Linked DNA regions of Homo sapiens: region 1 is linked to region 2. The links come from fine-mapping of genetic effects on gene expression. A gene starts in region 2. The other region holds a variant in brackets. All regions are shown on one strand. Distances are from middle to middle. Region 1 overlaps CYSTM1 (cysteine rich transmembrane module containing 1). Region 2 holds the start of PFDN1 (prefoldin subunit 1).

Region 1 (11,248 bases), 74 kb before region 2:
GGGTTCAAGCGATTCTCCTGCCTCAGCCTCTCGAGTAGCTGGGATTACAGGCATGCGCCACCACACCCAGCTAATTTTGTATTTTTAGTAGAGATGGGGTTTCTCCATGTTGGTCAGGCTGGTCTCGAACTCCTGACCTCAGGTGATCCGCCCGCCTCGGCCTCCCAAAGTGCTGGGATTACATACGTGAGCCACCATGCCCAGCTGCCGCAGACTTTCTTACAAAACTCTAGGAAGATTAGACAAATATCTTCACTAGAGGTTATTTATGCAATAGGCATTGTTTCTTTTTTTCTTTTATTTTTGGAGACAGGGTCTTTCTCTGTCACTTGGGCTGGAATGTGGTGGTGTGATCATGACTCACTGCAGCCTCAAACTCCTGGGCTCAAGCAATCCTCCTGCTTCAGCCTCCTGAATAGCTGGGACTACAGGCATGAGCCACCACACTCAGCTACTTAAAAATTTTTTTGTAGAGATGGAGTCTCACTTTATTGCCCAGGCCAGTCTTGAACTCGTTAATTCAAGGGATCCTCCCGCCTCAGCCTCCCAAAGCACTGGGATTACAGGTGTGAGCCATCATGCCCAGCCTGGCATTGTGTTTTTATAAGGAGTTGTCTATGCTATGGGAATACATCAGTCATCGTGGTTTCACTTCAAGATGGTGTCATACCAGGCACAGTGGCTCATGCCTGTAATCCCAGTACTTTGGGAAACCAAGCAGGAGGATGGCTTGAGGCCAGGAGTTGAAGACCAGCATGGACAACATAGCAAGACCCTGTCTCTACAAAAAATTTTAAAAATTAGCCAGGTGTGGTGACATGCACCTGTTGTCCTAGCTACTTGGGAAGCAGAGGTTAAAGGATTGCTTGAGCCCAGAAGTTTGACGCTGAGGTGAGTTATGATCATGCCACTGCACTTCAGCCTGGGTAATAGAGCAAGACCCTCTCTCTAAAAAATAAAAATAAAAAAGATGGTGTCATTCTTGCCATGCAACAAACTGTTTTCCTACATAGGTGTCACTGCCCATTCAGGATCAGTGGAACGCTAGGACTGGCAGGTGGTGTAGGCAGATACAGGTGAATCCCACTGTGGGGATTCCTGCTGGGGTGACCACAGTACCTGGGTTGTTTAGGCCTTCAATCAGTGGGAGGGAGTTGGGGAAGGGGTTGTTACCAGGCATGGGCCTGGGCCTGGCAGTCAGGATACAGGAGGTGTCTGTGGCCCCTGGACTCCAGCCTCTGGCTGCCATCCTGATTGTTCCCATGTCCCATATGTTTCTCTTCTGTCCCAGGCTCAGTATACAAACTCCACATCCTCTGACTTGGAAGCTGCCCAGCCCTGAGCTCTGCCTGGGCTTCCTAGTCATACTTCCCAAAGATGTGACCGGTTTCCCTGACTTTGAACCTTGGCTCTGATGTCATGTAGTTAGTTGAGGCCAAAGGAAAACTGATGGGGACTGTTCATGTCTGTGTGTGAGCTGGAGTGAAGGAAGGTGTGCCTAGGCAGGGCCTTCGGTTCCTGGCAGTCCCCTCCCCAGCATTCTTGTATTTTCCTGCCGTGAATCTACTGGAGATAGAGATCTGGCTCTGTTCTGCTCTTCCTCTTCTCTCTGAGTGGCTTTGGGCATATCCATCCCTTGCACTGGAACTCCGTTACCTCCTCTCTACAGCGAGGGGCTAACTGATCTTGCAGGCCCCTTGCTCCTAGAATAGCCTGTGACTCTGACTCCCAGCCTCCTGTTTATTTCTGAGGCTTCTTCCCAGAGTGGGTAAACACCTCCTCTTCTTTCTCCCTGTCTACAAGAGGCCTGCTTTTGGTCAGGGGAGGGGTCTGCCTGAAAGGTCATAGGCATTTGAATAATAGTAATAACATCAGTGAGCATTTACTGAATGCTTTCCAATGTGCGAAGCACTGTGCCCAGCATTTTACATGCATAATCTCTTCATTTTCCCAGCAACCCTATGATGGGGTATAGATTACTAATATTATTCCTGTTTTATAGCAGAAGAAACTGAGGGTTGGAGAGGTTATTACCTGTCCAAGGTTACATGGCCAGTGAGTAGATGACCCTATATTTAAATTCAGCTTGATATTTTATTAAAATTCCTATTCTGGGCTGGGCGCGGTGGCTCACATCTATAATCCCAGCACTTTGGGAGGCCAAGGTAGGCGGATCACTTGAGGTCAGGAGTTCGAGACCAGCCTGGCAAACATGGTGAAAACCCGTCTCTATAAAAAATATATATATATTTATATATATATAATATATATAAATATATATTAATAATATATAATATATTTATATATATTAATAATATAATATATAATATAAATATATATTATATACTAAATATTATATATATATATATATATATATATAAAAATTAGCCAGATGTGATGGCGCATGCCTGTAATCCCAGCTACTTGGGAGGCTGAGGCAGGATAATCACTTGAACCTGGGAGGCAGAGGTTGCAGTGAGCCGAGATCGCACCCTTGTACTCCAGCCTGGGCAACAAGAGTGATACTCTGTCTCAAAAAAAAAAAAAATGTGGAGGGGATATTTCCAGGACACAGGAAAGGATGAGCCCAGTGACAGTACTGCTGATGCTGAGAGAAGGCCAAGGGGTGGGGTGGGCACTACCAAGGGTCAGCTGAGTAGACGCTGAAGTTCCTGACAAGGGTCCTGGTGCTGCTGAGGTCGCTGACTGGCAGAGGTGGAGAGCAGCAGTGTGGGAGTCAAGAATGGAGGGGCTCTGCTGAGGAAGTGAGAGGAGAAAGCGGAGTATGATGGATGTTCACACTCACTGGGGTGAGGGGAGCCAGAGGGCTGGTTAGGGACCTGGAGGTGGCCCCTGGAGCATCATGGAATCCTCAAGGCTGTGCATAGGCAGAGACCAATGGCGCCTGCTCCCTTGATGCCGTCTTCCCCAGAACCTGGCTCAGGTGGGCTCCTGAGTACCTTCCCAAACCCCAAGAGAAGAGGCTGGGGTTGATTTGGTAAATTCTGAAGTACTGCCACCTGGTGTGAAGGGCCAGGGGTTGCAAAAGAAGCCTTAATGAGCTGTTTGGGATCTTGCATGGGCAGGGGGGAGAGGGTTAATAGGGGCTCAGCCCTAGGAATTGCAGCAGTATAGGGGTCCTCTCTGGTTTGAGCTCCTTGGAGGGAGAGTTGTGATTTGATAGCATCCCCTACTTGCCAGGTTTGCCCAGCAGAAGTCCTGGTGCTAGCCTAGAACTCAGAGGCTGCAGGGCCTGAGAGGAGACAGAATTGGATTTAAGGCATATTTGATAGGTGGAACTATGGGTTAGGAGGTGCCAGGTCAGGCTATAAGAGGAGCATGGTTGTGGGGAGTTGGACCATGTGAGGTGTCTAGGTAACAGTGACTTAGGGAGGCAGCCCAGGACTGAGGATGGGGCCACTGGGGCTAGGAGCCCAGATTGGTCAGTGCCCACTGCCCCTAAAGCCCCCGGAACTATCTTAGAGCAGTTGAAATAGACGCTTGAAGAGATCCAAGGCATTCTAAAACTAGCTAGGCCCCACCCTTCTGCCATGAGGACCCCCAGGAGCAGCTTTGAGTGTGGCATTGGAATCAGACGAGCCTGGATTTGAGAAAAATGTAAAAGCAAAGTGAAAACCTCCACCTCTCTCCACACCCTGACCTTTAAGTTCTTGTATATTTCAGAAATGTGTGTGTGTGTATTTGTGTGTATATCCTTCTTATTGTACAAATAAAATAGATGCACTGCTCCAGACCTTGCTTTCATCCCTTAAATTATTGGTCACGTGGAAGAACCACCTGGTTCTTTTAGTAGTAGTCTATTATGTGGTGTGCTTTAATTTACCCAACTGGACTCACCTGATAGACATTAAGGCTAGTTTGGGGTTATTTTGATGCAGCAACAACCATACTTTACATAGATCCCTGAACGCTGGGACAATTATTTCTGCAGGATAAATTCCAGATACAAATTTTCTGGGTTGCAGTTGTTGTCTCTCCCCTTCTCCCTAAATTCTCCTTCAAAGAGATTCTGTCCATTCCCACTCCTGCTAACAGTGTATGAGAGTTATAAAATGATGATAATAATACAGAGCTGTTGGGAGGATTAAATGAAATCATATGTAAAGATTTCCGCCGGTGCCTGCCATATCAGGGCAGGCTTCAGGGGTGGGGCTCAGGGCAAGGGTTGCATTGAGAATTGGATCACTTTGGACAAGCAACAAATAAAGTACTGGGTTGGGTTTCCTGGTCAGCTTGGAGGAGAGGTGGCAGGAACAGTGGTCTGATAGCTGCTGAGTACCTGATGTGTGCCAGACACTGAAACAGGGAAAGCGCAGTGAACCAGATCAGCTTGGCCCCTGCCCTGCCCTTGTGGAGCTAACAATCTAGACAGAACCAGTCTGCAGAGTGTGGTAAGTTCTACCAGCATGCTGCCACTCCAAGTCCCCTCTGACTGGGTCTCTCTCTCCTCTGCCCGCCCTGCACCCCCTTCAACAGTGTACGTGATAGAACGGGAAAGGAAGATGGACAGCGGGTGTCAGGCAGTCCTGGCTGCTTGCTGGGCTGCTCTCTGCTGCTGCTGCCTCCTGGACAACTTGAACTGAGCAGCTAAGATCCGAGTATTTCCCTACAGCCCTGCTACCTCCTGTTACAGGAATAAACAACTACTGTTGCACAATTTCCATTTTCTTCTTTCTTTGACAATAACTCACAGATTTTTAAATTTTAGCACCTTTCATAGGTGTGAAATGGTATCTCACTAATTTGCTTTCCCTGATTACTAGTGACCTTGAACATAAACATATAAGTTTTGGGCAGTTTGTACATATCTTGTGAATTGATTATACATATTCTTAGCCTGTCTTTTCTGTTGGTTTGTCTTACTGATTTGTAGAGAATTTCTATATATTCTATCCACTAATATTTGTCTGTTTTATAGGTGTGCAAATATCTTCTTCCTATCTGACTCTCTTTTTTTTTGGAATGGAGTCTTGCTCTGTTACCCAGGCTGGAGTGCAGTGGCGTGATCTCATCTCACTGCAACCTTTACCTCCTGGGTTCAAGCAATTCTTGTGCCTCAGCCTCCCAAGTAGCTGGGATTACAGGCACGCGCCACCATACCCTGCTAATTTTTGTATCTTTTTAATAGAGACAGGGTTTTGCCATGTTTTCCAGGCTGGTCTTGAACTCCTGAATTTAAGCGATCCACCTGAGATCCAAAGTGCTGGGATTGCAGGTGTGAGCCACCATACTTGGCCTCTCTTAATCTTTTTATGGTGTATTTTCTAGTATGAGAAATTTTAGAAGTCATGTTTATCATCTTTCCCTCGTGCTTTGTATGGTTTAGTCTTTGAAAACTCATTTTCTATTCCAAGCTCATAAAAATAAGTCTATATTTTCTTTTAAAAATGTTTAAGATATAGTCGTTAGTCCACCTGATTTATTTATTTATCTATTTATTTATGTATTTATTTATTTTTTTGAGACCTAGTTTTGCTCTTGTTGCCCAGGCTGGAGTGCAATGGCATGATCTTGGCTCACTGCAACCTCCGCCTCCCTGGTTCAAGCGATTCTCCTGCCTCAGCCTCCCAAGTAGCTGGGATTACAGGCATGTGCCACCACACCCAGCTAATTTTGCATTTTTATTTTATTTTTTGAAATGAGGTATTGCTCTGTCACCCAAGCTGGAGTGCAGTGTCACGATCTCGGCTCACTGCAGCCTCTGCCTCCTGGGTTCAAGGGATTCTCTTGCCTCAGCCTCCCAAGTAGCTGGAACTACAGGCATGCACCACCATGCCCAGCTAATTTTTGTATTTTTAGTAGAGACAGGGGTTTCACCATGTTGGTCAGTATGGTCTCGAACTCCTGACCTCAGGTGATCCATCCATCTCAGCCTCCCAAAGTGCTGGGATTACAGGCGTAAGCCACCGCGCACCTGGCCCTGAATTTATTTTTTATCATGGGTGTAGGATAAGATTCTAGTTTTCTTTTT[C/T]CATCTTGGTAGTTCCAGCTGCATGTATTAATTAGATCATCCTGTTACCAAGCAAAAGGGGCTCACTGCCTGATGTGCTAGAAGCCAATTCCATGACACTGGGTTTTTGAGAAAAGAAATGCTTTTATTATAAGTTAACAATTAGACAGGATTCCAGCTCAAATCTGTCTCCCTGTCCTGGCTTTAAGGCAGTAATTTTATTAGAAAAGGTTAGAGGGGTGGATTCCAGGATGAGAGATGGTTGATGGAAGGAAAGAAGAGGTTTGGAAAGTCCTGGGGCATGTACAATAATCTCTTCATGCTACCTCTTGGATCCCATGTGCAAATTCAGGGGAGGGGTTAGCATGAAACATGCAGTGAAAATTCAGGCTGTGACATCATCAGCAGGCTCATTCTGTCCAAACTCCAGCTGGCCATATTGGTTCTAACAGATTTCACTCAGTTCTTTTGCCTCATAAGCAGAGGCGTTTCAGTGTTTCAGCAAGTTGTTTCTTGACTGCCATCTTGTAAACTCTGTTAGGGATTGGTGTCTTTAATCTTTGGGGCACAGTTTCAGTCCTTTCCCTATTAATCTGAGATGAGATTTGTCATATACCACGTTCCCATATACGAATTAGAATATGAGCTAGAATCAGGAATCTGGTGTGATGTGTACCCTCCTTCCACCAGCACGTGCATAAACACATACCTCTTATTCTTTTTCGTAATTTTCTTGGCTTTCTCGGCCTTTTACTGTTTCATCTACATTTTAGAATGTGTGTTAGTTTCTACAGAAAACCATGTTTGGCTTTGATTGGAACAGCATGTAATTTATCAAGTAATTGGTGAAAGAGTTGACATATTTACAATATTGTCTTCCCACCATGAACAAGTAATCTCTCAATTTATTTTTGTCTTCTTTTTATGTCCTTTAAGTCTTAAAATTTTCTTCACATAGTTCTCACATATTTTTATTGGTTTTTAAAATTAGATTTTTCTCCAGGTATAATTTTAATGTTACTGTGAATAGATTACTTTTTTAAAATGTTACATTTATTACTTGGTGGAAATAATTTATTCATTCCATTGGGATCACACATTAGAAAATTTTAGCCCATCTTTGTCACACCATTCCCTTGGGGGCAGTTCAGCTGTGAGGGGAGCAGTTCTTCAGTCTGTCCTATGCATGCTCCAGGGAAACCACCAGGGTTCTACAGAGACAATCATGGATTCCGTAAACGTAGCTCCAGAGTGTCAGGTGACAGACCACACAGAACAAACCCCCAATCCCTGCTTTTGCAGGGCTTATACTCTAGGGAGGGAACCAGACATTAAATAAACCCACAGGTAATAATTGACATCATACTTCCCTGTGAAGAGAAGAGACATAATGCCATGAAAACCTACAAAAGGGGAACAATCTGGCACAGTCCAAGAAGGCTTCCCCAAGGCAGTGAAGTGAGCTAAGATCTGAAAGATGTATAGATGTCAGTAGGCAAAAGTGTAGGAACAGCAGGTGCCAAGGCCCAATGGCAGGAAAGATGGTGGCTCATTTGATAAAGTGGAAAAGGAAATTGGTGTCATAGGCCGCAAGGGGACATTAGGAGCAGTTGAGAAACAGGCAGGAACAAGATGGAGGCTCATAGCCCAAGTTAAGGATTTTGGTATTTGTCTTGTGAGTAATGGGAAGCTGTTGAAGGATATTAAGCAAAGGGATGATATCACATTTGCATTTTTAAGAAATCCCTTTGGCTTCTGTGTGGAGAGTGGTTTGGAAGGGGGCACAGGTACACATGGTGATTATGGAGAGAAATGAATGCATTTGAGATATTGGGAAGTAAAATCAACCAGACTTGGTGATGGATTGGATATGGACATTGAGGAAGAAGGTAAGAGTCAGGGATGACTTCTGGGTTTCTGACTGGAACTGGGTGCCTGGTGGTGGTGTTTACAGAGGTTGGGAACAAGAGAAAGGAATCATGATTGGTTGAGAGAGAGAACAAACTGAGTTAGTTTGAGGTTTCAAAGTATCTATGAGACATTCAAGTGGAGCTGTCAGGTAAGCAATTGTATATAAACCTGAAGCTTGGAGGAGAGGTTGGGCTAGAGATGTCAATGTGGAGAGCCTTGGCATGTTGATGATCATTGAAACTGTGGCCGTGAGTAAGATCAACTTGGATGGAAATATGGAGGGAAAAGGAAAGATGGCAGTGTAGGGCTGAGCTTTAAGGAATTCTGGATGGATCTGCAAAGGAGTCAGAGAGAGAAAGCTAGGAGAATGGGATGTCCTGAGAGCTGAGTGAAGATGTATTGGGAAGAGAGGATTGATTAGTAACATCAAATGTTGCTGAGAGATTAGGTAAAGTGAGAACGCAAAAGTGTCTACACTGTTTTCACTGAGGAGGTGGACTTTTCTCCAGTTCTTGTTCTGTGAAGGAAATCAACAGAAGGAAAGACAAGACTGCTTGGAACTAGAAGACAGGGCTCCTCAGGCCTGGAGAAAGGCAGACATGTGTGTAAGCATGGAACAGGCAAGCTCACAGGTGCAAAGAACTAGCTGAGGCAGGAAGGCTAGGAACCTCCACTAAACTGGACAGAAGCATGCTAACAAAACATTGAGTTCCAAAAAGGTTAGACATCAAGTAAGGGAGTCAGGCTAATGTCACTCAGCTTTGAGCCTGAACAGAGGAGACATTGTTCCTCAAGAAGACTATGTCCTCTGCGGTAGCTGCTGGAGGGTCCAGCACATAGATAACCAAACAGATGACCATCCATGCCCTGGGGAGGTCCTTCTGAACAGTAGCAACAGTCTAGATCTTTCATGACCACCATTACAGATTTTGCTAATATACATCTTTTGAAAGGAAACTCTACATGCAACTCCAGTCTGGAAAATAGATACTATAGAATTGCTGTGGTTGAGGCAAAGAGGAACCACCCCCTACTTTTTATGAAAGCTTAGGGGCCTGAGGAATACATTTGAAAGCCCCTGGTCTTTGGGATTTTGCAGTGCATTTGGCCACAGGAGATTTGGGATGGTAGGTTTTGCCCTGGAATGTCATTCCAGGATACTGCCTTGCGAGCACAATCATCAGTGTGTTAACTGCTGGTGTATTCTATGAGGATCTGTGGATACTTTATTGCTGAGAAGTATTCCATTGTATTAGAGGTACCCCAGTTATTCATTCACCTGTTGAAGGACCATTTGGGTTGTTTCTACCTCTGAGTGATTATGAATCCATCTGCTATAAACATTGACGTTCAGGTTTTTGTGTGAACCTAAGTTTTCATTTCTCTAAGCTGAATACCCAGGAGTGGAATTTCTGGATCATATGGTAGGCTTAAGAAACTGCTACTCTTTTCCAAAGTGGCTTTGGCATCGTGCGTTCCTATCAGTAATGAATGAGAGTTCCGGTGGCTCTGCATCTTTGCCAGTACTTGATATTGTCAGCAATTTTTATTTTAGCCATTCTGATTGTATGTAGTGGCATCTCATTGTGGTTTTAATTTGTGTTTTCCTAATAGTTAGTGATGAAGTCATGTGCATATTTGCTCTCCGTATATCCTCTTTGGTGAAGTGTTTTTTCAAGTCTTTTATCCACTTTCAAATTGGGTTGTTTTCTTACTGTGGACTTTTGAGAGTTGTTATATATTTTAGATACAAGTCCTCTGTTGGCTGTGATTTGCACATATTTTCTCTGCGTCTGTAGCCTATCTTTTCATCCCCTTAACCGTGTCTTCCATGGAGCAAAAGTTTTCATTGTGATTAAGTCCAGTTTATCAATTTTTTATTTTATCACGTTTTTGGTGTCAGTCTAAGGACTCTTTGTCTAACCCCAGGTCATGAAGATGCTTTTCCATGTTTTCTTTAAAATATTTTACAGTTTTATGTTTTTCATTGAGATCTATAATCCACTTGGGGTTAGTTTTTGTATAAAATGTGAGGTTTAAAATAGCTGAGGGGTTTTGTGAGGTGTTCTGCATGCCATACCAATATTTTTCAAAATGCTTTCTCCAATGAATTGCCTTTGCTTATGTGTCAAACCAGTTAGCCATGTTCATGTGGGTCTATTATTGTCTTCTTCATTCCATTCCTTTGATCTATGTGTCTGTTTGCCAATACCATTAACCGGTTATCTTGACTACTGTAGCTTTATGTTAAATCTTCATTTTAGTCATTTTAGTTCTCTTTCCTTTCCATAAATTTTAGAATTTGTTTATCTTTATCTATTAAAAACTCCTGTTGGGATTTTTATTGAAATTGCATTAAATCTATAGATCATCATGGGGCCTAATGGGTATTTAAGTGGGATTGGTTGCTCACCCTTACATGCCATAACCTTTAATGATGGCAGGCAGCCTGCCCATTCATTTGCTGGGTTGTAATTATTCCACAGTTAAAGCCCCTAGTGTATGATTACATTGGTGTCTTTGGAAGTTGGCAGTAAATGAGGTATACTATTCATTAAATTGGGTAGGAACAGCCATTACAAGATGGCCAGTATGTTGAGGGACTTGTGGGCCGGGTTATGCTCTGAGTCAGGTCAGCCACCATCATTCACAACCGTGGTCTTCCTGTGCCTCACTTCTGAGCAGGTCATGAGCAAGATCATACACTGTTTGCTGCCATTGGAAAATCCTCCCTCCCTCGAGGTCTTTACACCGTCATCACAGGGTCATAGAACTGTCATGTACTAGGCATGATTAGGTTTTTTCTCTAGATTTTCCTTAATTTCTTCTGCCTGGTATATCAGCCTCATTCATAATTTTTTTTTTTTTTTTTGAGATGGAGTCTCACCCTTGCCCAGGCAGGAGTTCAGTGGCGCGATCTCGGCTTACTGCAACCTCCACCTCCAGGGTTCAAGCGATTCTCCTGCCTCAGCCTCCTAAGTAGCTGGGATTACAGGCGCCCGCCACCACGCCTGGCTAATTTTTATACTTTTTAGTAGAGATGGGGTTTCGCCATGTTGGCCAGGCTGGTCTTGAACTCCTGACCTCAGGTTATCTGTCTGCCTCAGCCTCCCAAAGTGCTGGGATTACAGGTTTGAGCCACCAAGCCCAGCCAGCCTCATTCATAATTATTCCTCCAAAAGCTGCATTAGGGATATGTTCATGATATATGTCATGATATAATGAACTGCTTCCTCCTCCTACTGTAGTAATGTCACCCATGACATTGGGTCTTCAGCACCAGAAAAACTTTCCTTTTTTTTTTTTTTTGAGATGGAGTCTCGCTCTGTCGCCCAGGCTGGAGTGCAGTGGTGCGATCTTGGCTCA
Region 2 (11,248 bases):
AACTATTCTAATTAAAAATTAAAACTTCACTGTAGCTCAAAAGCCCAAAGGGAGTAAAACGTTTTTTCTATTTTGAAAAAGGAATTCTTTAGCTATTGCAAACAAAGGCTAGCGCAGTGATGTGAAATCCAAGTACAACATGTTAATAAAGCTGGCATTACTGTTTTAAGACCTAAGGATATTCACATTAAGGATAAAATTATCCTGTAGTGAATGCCAACAATGCATTTCATACTACACAGACACATATTCAAGGGTTCTACTTTGTTCCAATTCTTTTGTGTCCCAGTAACAAACTCTCAAATTGGGATCCTTATCCTCTTAAACTAAAATGAAATATATGAGCTTGGACATAAAATTTACTTGTGCTACATTATTCATTCTGAGAAAGCAAATCAGATGAACAATTTAACATAATCTAATTCTGAACCATAAAGATATGGATTAGTCAGTGATGAGCAGGTCTACTTCTCATGATGTCATTCCAAAGTCATTATTAAATTTTACACATGTTATTCTTTCTTCAAATCAATCACAAAACAAGTCATCCCGAGACTGAGGTCAAATTCCATTCTAACTAAAAGATCTCCAAATCTGAAGTAATGGTCTACTTACTAAGTAATACTCAAAGACCAAATTCCAGAAAAACCCTCCTCCTGTACCTCCCCCCAACTTAAAAAAAAAAAAAATCAGTCTTCTCCTTTTAGCTCACTGTAATGGAATGTGACCTGTACTTAAGGGCTTTTCCATTCCTTTTTTTCTGCTTACAGAATATGAAGCAGACCTATTCTCTCTCACAAGGGCAATATGCTTTTAAAAGAAAAAAAAGTGAAATGTACGAAGTTAATAATGTATTAATTAGAACAAACAAAAGTAAAATAATTTACTAGATTTCTCACATGTGAGTTGTCCTCCTATTAGAACAATGCATGACACTTAGAATGAGTGTATTTTTTACTTTTTTTTTTTTTGAGGCAGAGTTTCACTCTTGTTGCCCAGGCTGGAGTGTAATGGCGCAATCTCGGCTCACTGCAACCTCCACCTCCTGGGTTCGAGCAGTTCTCCTGCCTCAGTCTCGTAACTGGGATTACAGGTGTGCGCCACCATGCCTCGCTAATTTTTGTATTTTTAGTAGAGATGGGGTTTCACCATGTTGGCCAGGCTGGTCTCAAACCCCTAACCTCAGGGGATCCACCCACCTTGGCCTCCTGCAGTGCTGAGATTACAGGCATGAGCCACTATGCCTGGCCAGAATGAGTGTATTTAAATGACAATTGAATTTTTATTTTTATTTTACAACACTGATCAGACATCTGAAAGATTTATGATTTGTATCACTCCTAATAAATTAAGCAGGGAAGAGGAGGTTAAAACTGCACCTACTTAAATAAATCTTCTTCACATACAATATAATATTGCTATAAACATTTTCCATGACAAATCATTTTTATTACTGAACTTACACTTAAGTACCTAATCATAGACAGAACAGGAAAGTAAGCACTTAAGAAATGTACTTTGAGGCCAGGGGCGGTGGCTCACGCCTGTAATCCCAGCACTGTGGGAGGCCAAGGCGGGCGGATCAAGAGGAGAGATTGAGACCATCCTGGCCAACACGGTAAAACCCCATTTCTACTAAAAATACAAAAATTAGCCGGGCATGGTAGCATGCGCCTGTAGTCCCAGCTACTCAGGAGGCTGAGGCAGAATTGTTTGAACCCAAGAGGCGGAGGTTGCAGTGAGCCAGAATCACACCACTGCACTCTAGCCTGGCAACAGAGCGAGACTCTGTCTCAAAAAAAAAAAAAAAATGTACTTTAAAGTCTAAACTTAAACACTTTAATTAATCTACCTGAAGTTCAGCTCCTCATTTTAAAAAAAGAAAGCATTTAATTAGATAATCTTTAAAGTTATTTCTAAGATACTTTAACCTGCCGGGTGTGGTGACTCATATCTGTAATCCAGCACTTTGGGAGGCTGAGGTGGGCGGATCAGGAGGTCAGGAGTTCCAGACCATCCTGGCAAATATGGTAAAACCCCGTCTCTACTAAAAACACAAAAATTAGCAGGGCGTGGTGGCAAGCGCCCGTAATCCCAGTCACTCAGGAGGCTGAAGCAGGGGAATCGCTTGAACCCAGGAGACGGAGATTGCAGTGAGCCAAGATCGGGCCATTGCACTCCAGCCTGGGCGATATAGCGAAAACTCCGTCTCAAAAAGAAAAAGATACTTACTTTAAACCAAAGTTTCTTTTGTTTTGAGACAGAGTCTAGCTCTGCTGCCCAGGCTGGAGTGCAGTGGCATGATTTCGGCTCACTGCAACCTCCACCTCCGGGGTTCAAGCGACTCTCCTGCCTCAGCCTCCCAAGTAGCCAAGACTACAGGCAAGTGCCACCATGCTCAGCTAATCTTTGTATTTGTGGTAGATACAGGGTTCCACCATACTGGCCAACAGGCTGCCCTCAAGTGATCCACTCGCCTCGACCTCCCAAAGTGCCAGGATTACAGGCATGAGCCACCACTCCTGGCCTAACCCAAGTTTTAAGATGAACAAATTCTATTTAACTCGGACAAAAGCACTCCCAAAATAACTCCATTAAGGACACATTTTACTTACATTCTTCCTACACCTTCATACATGTTAGTCTCATCTACCAAAGTCATGATCTCTGTATCTGTAAGATGTGCATGCTTTTTCGTTCTGTTTAGCTGTTCAATCTGTATGTCTGCGAGCTTCACCTTCTGTTGAGTGTCAATAACTTTGGCTTGAAGCTCTGTGAAGGCCTAATAAAAACAAGTCCATGATTTAGTAGGTAAAACATTTTACAGGAAACATTTACCTCAAATCCAAATATATTAAAACAAAATATGCTAGCCAGAGACAAAGCTGTGAAATTTACCAAACATCAATAAAAGTCAACATAACTGTAAACAATCAAGTCACCATACTAAATACTGAATTTACAATCATCAGAAGATACAATCAGTGTGAAGCAAATCAAATGCATATTAAGTAATAACCATATTAAGTAGCAAGTACTCAAGGAGTAGTAAAAGAAATAAATGCAATAGTCAAGGATGAAATCCAGAGATTCAAAACAAGAACCATAAAAGTAATAACTCACTACATTTGTATTGCACAATTAGGTTTCAAAGCACTTTCTCACATTAGTTTGAAATATTAACATGGGAATATTAATATAAGAATATTAATGAGGAAATATAATAAATATCTCATTTATGCCTCTCAGTAATTCCATGAGTTAGCATTGGCAGTCTCATCATCCACAATTTACAAATTAAGTAACCAAATGAGTTAAGAGATAAAAGTGGCTTGCACAAGGTTGAACAACTACTGGGGGGAAGGCAGGTGTTATTTAAATCCATTTCTTCTAACCCCTTAGTTCAGCAATCTTTCCATTCCACTGTCTATAGTAATATTCATAATATGAACATTTTTAAGAGGAAGACCAAGAAAGAGAGTGAGAAAAAATGCAAAGCACTGGCAAAAGAATTGCATCATGATCTTCATCCACAGATACCAGGCCAAATTTGACCCTTGCGTACACTTACTTAACTGGAAGATAAACAGTTCTTGGATACTTTTGTTGAAGTGCCTGGAATGACTTTCACATGCTGTTAAATTTGTGCCTTAATAACATCTGTGACTGCAATGCACAGCAAAGGCTACTACATAATTTTTATTGTGACCTTGTTTTCACCTACTAGTAAGGTTTTGAAAGATTTACTTTGGGGAAGGGGAGGGGCCTGAAATTTCCTATTTGTCTCCACCCAAAAAAAGGACCCTGTAAAAACATTAGAAGATAAAACCTTTAAACAAGTTTTTTAATTAATTGGTTATCAAAATTATTCATTTTAAGTTTGTAATCATTTTCTTAGTTTGCATTCACCGCCCGCAAGTTTCAAATGTAGCAATAAATTCAAAAGTACCGGGAGGCAAATCCATTCACTAAACCCTGATTTAAATCGGTACTTTTAACAGAAGAAAAGGTAAATTTTTAGAATGCACAATTTTGTTTTGAAATGTAAAATTCCAGGTATCATCTGACTGCTCTATACAGCTTGCTAAGGAAGCTAGTATACCATTAAAGATGAGCTAGTATACTGTTAAAGATTAGAGACTCCACCTAAGAGCTAAATTTACAAGATTCAAGACAAGAAGAACAAAAGCAAGACACAAACACATAATATCCTCACAACACTAACAAAAGCTTCATTTGTTAGAAGCAACAGCTATTTCGGCTGTCCTATTTCTTTTACACAAGTTGACCACAGGCAGTCTTAACTAAGATGTTGCTCATCTGAAGAACTCAAAATAGTGGTCAAAAAAGTGTGAGATAAGGCAGAGAATACTGGATTCTAGTCCCAACTTCTGACAGACTTTTCTGGCACTGGTTCCTTTTCCAGAAAAGTAGATTTAAAATAGATAAATTCTAGGGTCCTTTCCAATCCACCCCACCGCACAAAGCATACTGGTTTGGGGTCATTAGTGGTGTTAGAATGCTGATCATTCTTAGATAGCAAAAATCTGAATAACAACACATTTATAAGCAACTGAGGAAAACAGGAAACCCAATTCCTTCCGATACCGGTTTTATTTGGAAAACTTTACTGGTTTTGTTTTGTTTTTGACAATTCCTTCAAAAGAAGGAGGTTTTGTTTTGTTTTGTTTGACGAGTCCTTCAAAAGAAGTGGAGGGGGGGCAAAATCCTGAAATGAACATTGCTGCTACAATGCTTGGTTTTCCGAACTGTAGATATTGCAACTTTCAAGGTACAGAACCGAATAAATGGCCTAAAAACAAAGGTTGGACTTGGAGTTTTTCAAAGCAAATGAGGCAGAATTACGGATGCCACAGCTCAGGCAAGGGGTCCGAAGGGACCCCCATTTGAAATGCTCTCTTTAGTTCTTACTATGAAAGTGAGTCCCTGAAGCCTCCAAACGCAACGAAATGTCTCTGGAGCTCAGAAAGACTGGACAAGCCCGAGACAGGCCCGCAGACTTACCCGACCCAGACCAACCGGCTCCTACCCAGCAAGAGCCGCTCGCCCCCCACCCCGTTTATGGAGACCCAGTGAGGCCTTAGGACTCTGGGAAACCATTCCCTAGTCCACTGGACCCTCCTTCCTTCTGCAAGGCTCGTGCCTCACTTGATATTCTTGTCTATAGTCCCCTCAGCCTCCAAAAAGAAGACCTCCGCCTGCCAAAGACCCTCTTTTACCTTCTTCAGCTCTAGATCCACGGGGGCGGCCATCTTGGTGCACTGTAAGCGCCTGCGCAGTGGGAGTTGGACTGAAATAGGGTGGGGAAGGGCGCGTCTTACTTTGTGCGCCGGTCTTTCTTCTGCGCCTGCGCATGAGTTGGACTAACCGGGCTTCTTATCTTTCTCTGAGAATTGACTCCTGAAATATTTGGGTTTCGGATTCCGTGTCTTCACTACCTGACCGGTCAGGTCTGGCTTGCTCCTCCGTATCTTCCAGACATAGCCCAACGCGCAGATTTCCCATGTGGCTTTAAGCAGTTTGCCAGCTAGCTTAATATGTGCTGCTAAATTGAGATGTATGTAGATGAGGTCAAACCCTCATCAGTCGATCAGTCCTTCAGCTAGTCGCTGTGCTCTCAGGAATGAGTAAGAGTAAGTCCAGAACCTCAGGCATGACAGTTTGGGAAAGACTATTGGAAAGCTTGTCTGGAGTGTTCTTTCCAAAACGAACTTATTACTTCCAAAAGCTTCCCAAAGACATTCTAGGCACAGTGGTTCTCAAGAGAGGCTGAATACGTTTGTTTAAAAACAAAAAAATGCAGGTTCTCTGGGTCTCATCTCAAACGTACTCAGAATCTTTGAGAATGGGGTCTGGAAATTTGCACTTTTGCAGACTACCCCAGTGACCTAATGGTGCAACTCCTCCGCGGATCACTTTTTTGAGAATCTCTGCCATAAAAGGACCTGGCATTTGAACCAGAATAGATAATAATTGACTTTTGGAAATGGAAAAAAAAGTTAACCTACTCTAAAAACTGTTATGCTAAGAGAAAGTGCTACATAAATAATTAGGAAATTTATTTTATTTTTTAAAAAAAGAAAGAAAGAGAGAAAGAAAACAAACTGTTAGGGAGATGAAAGGGCAGGGAATTTGGAACCAGCCTAATCTAGATTCAAGGCTTGGTCTGCCTTTAGCCTATGTCTGGTTCCATTTACTAATTGTGTGACTTTAAGCAAGTCACTTGGATATTTTGTGGGGTTTTTTTTTTTTTTTGTACGTTTGTTTGTTTCTTGAGACAGGATCTTGCTCTGTCACCCAGGCTCGAGTGCAATGGTGCAATCACGACTCACTCCAGCCTCTACCTCCCGCGCTCAAGCGATCCTCCCACCTCAGCCTCGTGAGTAGCGCTGGGACTACAGGCGCGCGCCACCCACACTCAGCTAATTTTTATATTTTTGTACAGACGGGTTTTCACCTTGTTGCCCAAGCTGGTCTCAAACTCCTGAGCTCAAACAATCCGCTCGCCTTGGTCGCCCAAAGTGCTGTAGTGCTTTGATATTAAAGGCTTGAGCCACCGCACCCGGCCACATTTTTTTTTTTTTTTTTTTTTTGAGCCAGGGTCTCGCTCTGTCACCCAGGCTGGAATGCAGTGGCACGATCTCGGCTCACTGCAACCTCTGCCTCCCAGGATCAAGTGATTCTCCTGCCTCAGCCTCCCGAGTAGCTGGGATTACAGGCGCCTGCCACCACGCCCGGCTAATTTTTGTAGTTTTGGTAGAGACGGGTTTCACCGTGTTGCCCAGGCTGGTCTCCAACTCCCAGCCTCAAGTGATCCGCCTGCCTCGGCCTCCCAAAGGGCTGGGATTACAGGCAAGCCACCACGTCCAGCATCTGCCACCTATTTTTAATGAGCTTCAGTCTTCTCATGTTTGAGAGTGACCATATTGACCTAACAGGGTTATTGTGAGAAATAAATGAGATCAGGATAAAAAGCTCCAAACATAGCTCCATGCACACAAGTAGATACTCAATAAATCACTGGTGTTAATCGCCGTCCTGTTTGTCTTTCAAAGTCCAGCAAATGGGCACTACATCCCCCATCACACAGAGCAAAGATAATCTCTCCTCTGAACTCCCCTCACAACATCTATTTCTCTCTCAAGGCATATAACACTGTCTACCTTTTTTTAGAAAACATTTTTCTTAGACTGTAAGCTCCTTGAAATCAAGAACTATGGAATAATGGTTCTTCCACCTCTTGTACCTAGAACACCTGTCACAGTGCATCACGGGAAAAAAATACAAAATGGATACTGGATGTGAATAAATTATTCTGGAAAAAAAAAAGAAGACTCATTCCTCCCCAATTTGAGAAAGAGTAAAAAGGATCTGATATTTTGATTCTCTGGGACCTTCTTAGATTCTCATTACAGATGATCAATAAATACTGACTGATTAGCCAGGCATGGTGGCATGCCCCTGTAGTCCCAGCTACTCAGGAGGCTGAGGCAGGAGAATTGTGTGAGGCCTGGAGGCCAAGGCTGCAGTGAGTGGGGATCAATTGTGTCATTGCACTCCAGCCTGAAAGACAGAGTGAGACCTTGTCTCAAAAAATAAAATAAAATAAAATAAAATAAAATAGTGATTGAATATTGAAATTCAAAAAAAGTCTGAAATACTGTCCTGTACATTACCTCATGAGACTTTTGAAAGAGTCCTCATAGAGATGTATGGACTGTAAAAGTTAAGAGCCTGGGCTAAGCTGTCAGACAACCTGGGTACAAATACTGATTATACTACTTAAGGGTAATATGATCTTAGGCAAGAGTCTTCTCTGCATTGTTTGTTTGGTCATTGTTTCTCTTTGTGTATTTGTATACTACTTCTTCCTCATGAGTTTAATTTCCTTTTTTTTTTTTTTTCTTTTTTGAGACATGGTCTCATTCTGTCACCCAGGCTAGAGTGCAGTGGTTCAATCTCAGCTCACTTCAGCCTCCACCTCCCGGGTTCCAGCAATTCTCCTGCCTCAGCCTCCCTAGTAGCTTGGATTACAGGTGCATGTCACCACCTGGCTACTTTTCGTATTTCTTGTAAAGATGGGGTTTCACCATGTTGGCCAGGCTGGTCTTGAACTCCTGACCCCAGGTGATCCACCTGCCTCAGCCTCTCAAAGTGCTGGGATTACAGGCATGAGCCACTGCACCCAGCCTAATTTCCTTCATGATAAAGGAAATCCTTCAGTAGGTTCTTTTAGTAAGAATGTCTGATAAGTAAATTCTCTTCATCTTTGTTTTACAGGTTGAATTGTGCCCCCCACAAAAGATATGTTGAAGTCCTAACTCCCAGTACCTCAGAATGTGACCCTATTTGAAAGTAGGGTTTTGGGACAGGCGTGGTGGCTCATACCTATAATCCTAGCAGTTTGGGAGACTGAGGCGGGAGGATTCTTTGAGCCCATGAGTTTGAGACCAGCCTGGACAATAGGGCGAGACCTCATCTCTACAAAAAATAAAAAAAATTAACCGAGTGTGGTGGCAGTTATCTATATTCCCAGTTACTTGGGAGGCTGCAATAGGTGCATTGCTTGAGCCCAGGAAATTGAGGCTCCAGTAAGCTATGATCTACCACTGCACTCCCACCTGGGTGACAGAGCAAAGCCATGTCTCAAAAAATAAAAAGAAAGGGAGAAAGGAAGGAAGGAAGGAAGGAAGGAAATGGAGTTTTTACAGAGGTAATCAAGTTAAATGAGGTTATTAGAGTGGGCCCTAATGCAATATGACTGATGTCTTTATAAAAAGGGGAACTTTGGACACATACAGACACACACACAAGGAGGACTATGTGAACAGACATAAGGAGAAAGCCACATCAAACCTGGGGCTATCAGGCCAGGCGTGGTGGCTCACGCCTGTAATCCCAGCACTTTGGGAGGCCAAGGCAGGCAGATCACCTGAGGTCGGGAGTTCAAGACCAGCCTGACCAACATGGAGAAGCCCCGTCTCTACCAAAAATACAAAATTAGCGGGGCGTAGTGGTGCATGCCTGTAATCCCAGCTACCCAGGAGGCTGAGGCAGGAGAATTGCTTGAACCTGGGCGGTGGAGGTTGCAGTGAGCCGAGATTGTGCCATTGCACTCCAGCCTGGGCAACAAGAGCAAAACTCTGTCTCAAAAAAACCATCTGGGGCTATCAGAAACTGGAAAAGGCAAGAAGGATTCTTCTCTTTCGGGTTTCAGATAAAACATGGCTTTGCCAACACCTTGATTTTGGACTTCTAGCCCCCAGAACTGAGACAATAAATTTGTGTTGTTTTAAGCCACCCAGTTTGTGGTACTTTGTTGTGGCAGCCCTAGAAAATGCTCTGTGTATATCTAAAAATGTACATCAGGCCAGGTGTGGTGGCTCATGCCTGGAATCCCAGCACTTTAGGAGGCCAAGGCAGAAGCATTGCTTGAGGCCAGGAGTTGAACAAGACCAGCCTGGACAACATAGTAAGACCCCATTGCTACAAAAATTTTTAAAAATTATCCAGGTGTGGCACACCTCTGTAGTCCCAGCTACTTGAGAGGCTGAGGCAGAGAATAGCTTGAGCCCAGGAGTTCAAGGTTGCAGTGAGCTATGATCTGCCACTGCACTCTAGCCAGGGTGACAGAGCAACACCCTGTCTCAAAAAAAATGTTTTTTGTTTTTTTTTTTTTTGAGACGGAGTCTCACTCTTTCACCCAGGCTGGACTGCAGTGGTGCTATCTCGGCTCACTGCAAGCTCCACCTCCCGGGTTCATGCCATTCTCCTGCCTCAGCCTCCCAAGTAGCTGGGACTACAGGCGCCCGCCACCGTGCCCAGCTAATTTTTTGTATTTTTAGTAGAGACGGGGTTTCACCGTGTTAGCCAAGATGGTCTCAATCTCCTGACCTCGTGATCCGCCTGCCTCGGCCTCCCAAAGTGCTGGGATTACAGGCGTGAGCCACCACGCCTGGCCAAAAAATATGTATATTTTTTTAAATAAATAAATGCATATCTAAAAGGTTCACCCTTATTTTTGAATGACAGCTTAGCTATATATAGAACTATAGGTTGACAATTATTATTGAAGGCATTTTTCCATAGTTTTCTGATTTTATATACTGATAAAAAGTCCTCTGTCAGGCTGCTTTTCATTTCTTTGTTAGAAATCTGTCTTTTCTCTGGTATATTTTAAGATTCACTTTGTCTTTGGGTTTTGCCCTTCTACTTTGATGTGTGTGTTTGTGTTTGTGTGTGTGTTTGTAGATTAAAAATATATACCTAAAAATTCACCTAAACCTTTATCTTAAAATGTATATTCTAAAAATCTTTCTTACTTGGTACATAGTATGCTTCTTCTTTTTTCTTTTTTTCTTTTTAATTTTTATAATAGAGATGGAGGGGGGTGTCTCACTCTGTTGCCCAGCTGGTCTCGAACTCCTGGCTTCAAGCAATCCACCTGCCTCATCTTCCCAAAGTGCTGGGATTATAGGCATTAGCCACCATGCCTGGACCATAGTATGCTTCTTTAATCTAAGGATTTATGTCAGTTCTAGAAAATGTTCAACCAGTATCTCATGCAACATTGGCTCTCATTTCTCCTTGTAGAACTCTCATTAGAAGTATGTGGAAGTATCCACATCTCTCAACCTCTATTTTACACTTACTATTTCCCTGTGCTAAACCTTAGGTTTCTACAACACTCTCCACCAACTTACTAATTTTCTTTTCAACTATGTCTCGTTTACCATTTAAAGCATCCATTAGTATTTTATTTCAGTAACCATAATCCTATTTTTAAAGACACGGGGTGTTGCTCTGTTGTCCAGCTTGGAGTGCAGTGTTGTGATCAATCATAGCTCACTACATAGTGAGAACACATCTCTACAGAAATAAAAATAGAAAATTGGCCAGGCGCGTTGGCTCATGCCTGTAATCCCAGCACTTTGGGAGGCCAAGGCAGGTGGATCACAAGGTCAGGAGTTCGAGACCAGCCTGACTAACATGGTGAAATCCCGTCTGTACTAAAAATACAAAAATTAGCTGGGCATGGTGGTGCACGCCTGTAATCCCAGCTACTCAGGAGGCTGAGGCAGGAGAATCACTTGAACCCGGGAGGTGGAGTTTGCAGTGAGCCGAGATTGCACCACTGCACTTTAGCCTGGGCGACAGAGTGAGACTCCATCTCAAAAATAAAATAAAATGAAATATTAGCCAGGCATGGTGGTATGCACCTAGCTAC

What was found.
Region 1: its variant is fine-mapped to the expression of PFDN1 in whole blood (TOPMed, PIP above 0.99).

Annotation. Positions count from the first base shown.
Region 1 is chr5:140,224,233-140,235,480 of GRCh38, forward strand. The region is part of intron 2 of CYSTM1 (cysteine rich transmembrane module containing 1); the gene reads left to right. Among named protein-coding and RNA genes, the nearest start is that of CYSTM1, 55 kb to the left of the region's middle. The variant C/T (reference allele first, on the strand shown) is at 5,993.
Region 2 is chr5:140,297,801-140,309,048 of GRCh38, forward strand. PFDN1 (prefoldin subunit 1) reads right to left here and starts at 5,301. Exons shown (of 4, transcript NM_002622.5): 1 at 5,241-5,301; 2 at 2,616-2,782. The coding sequence starts at 5,273. RefSeq lists enhancers at 1,130-1,646, 5,038-5,317 and a silencer at 5,206-5,410.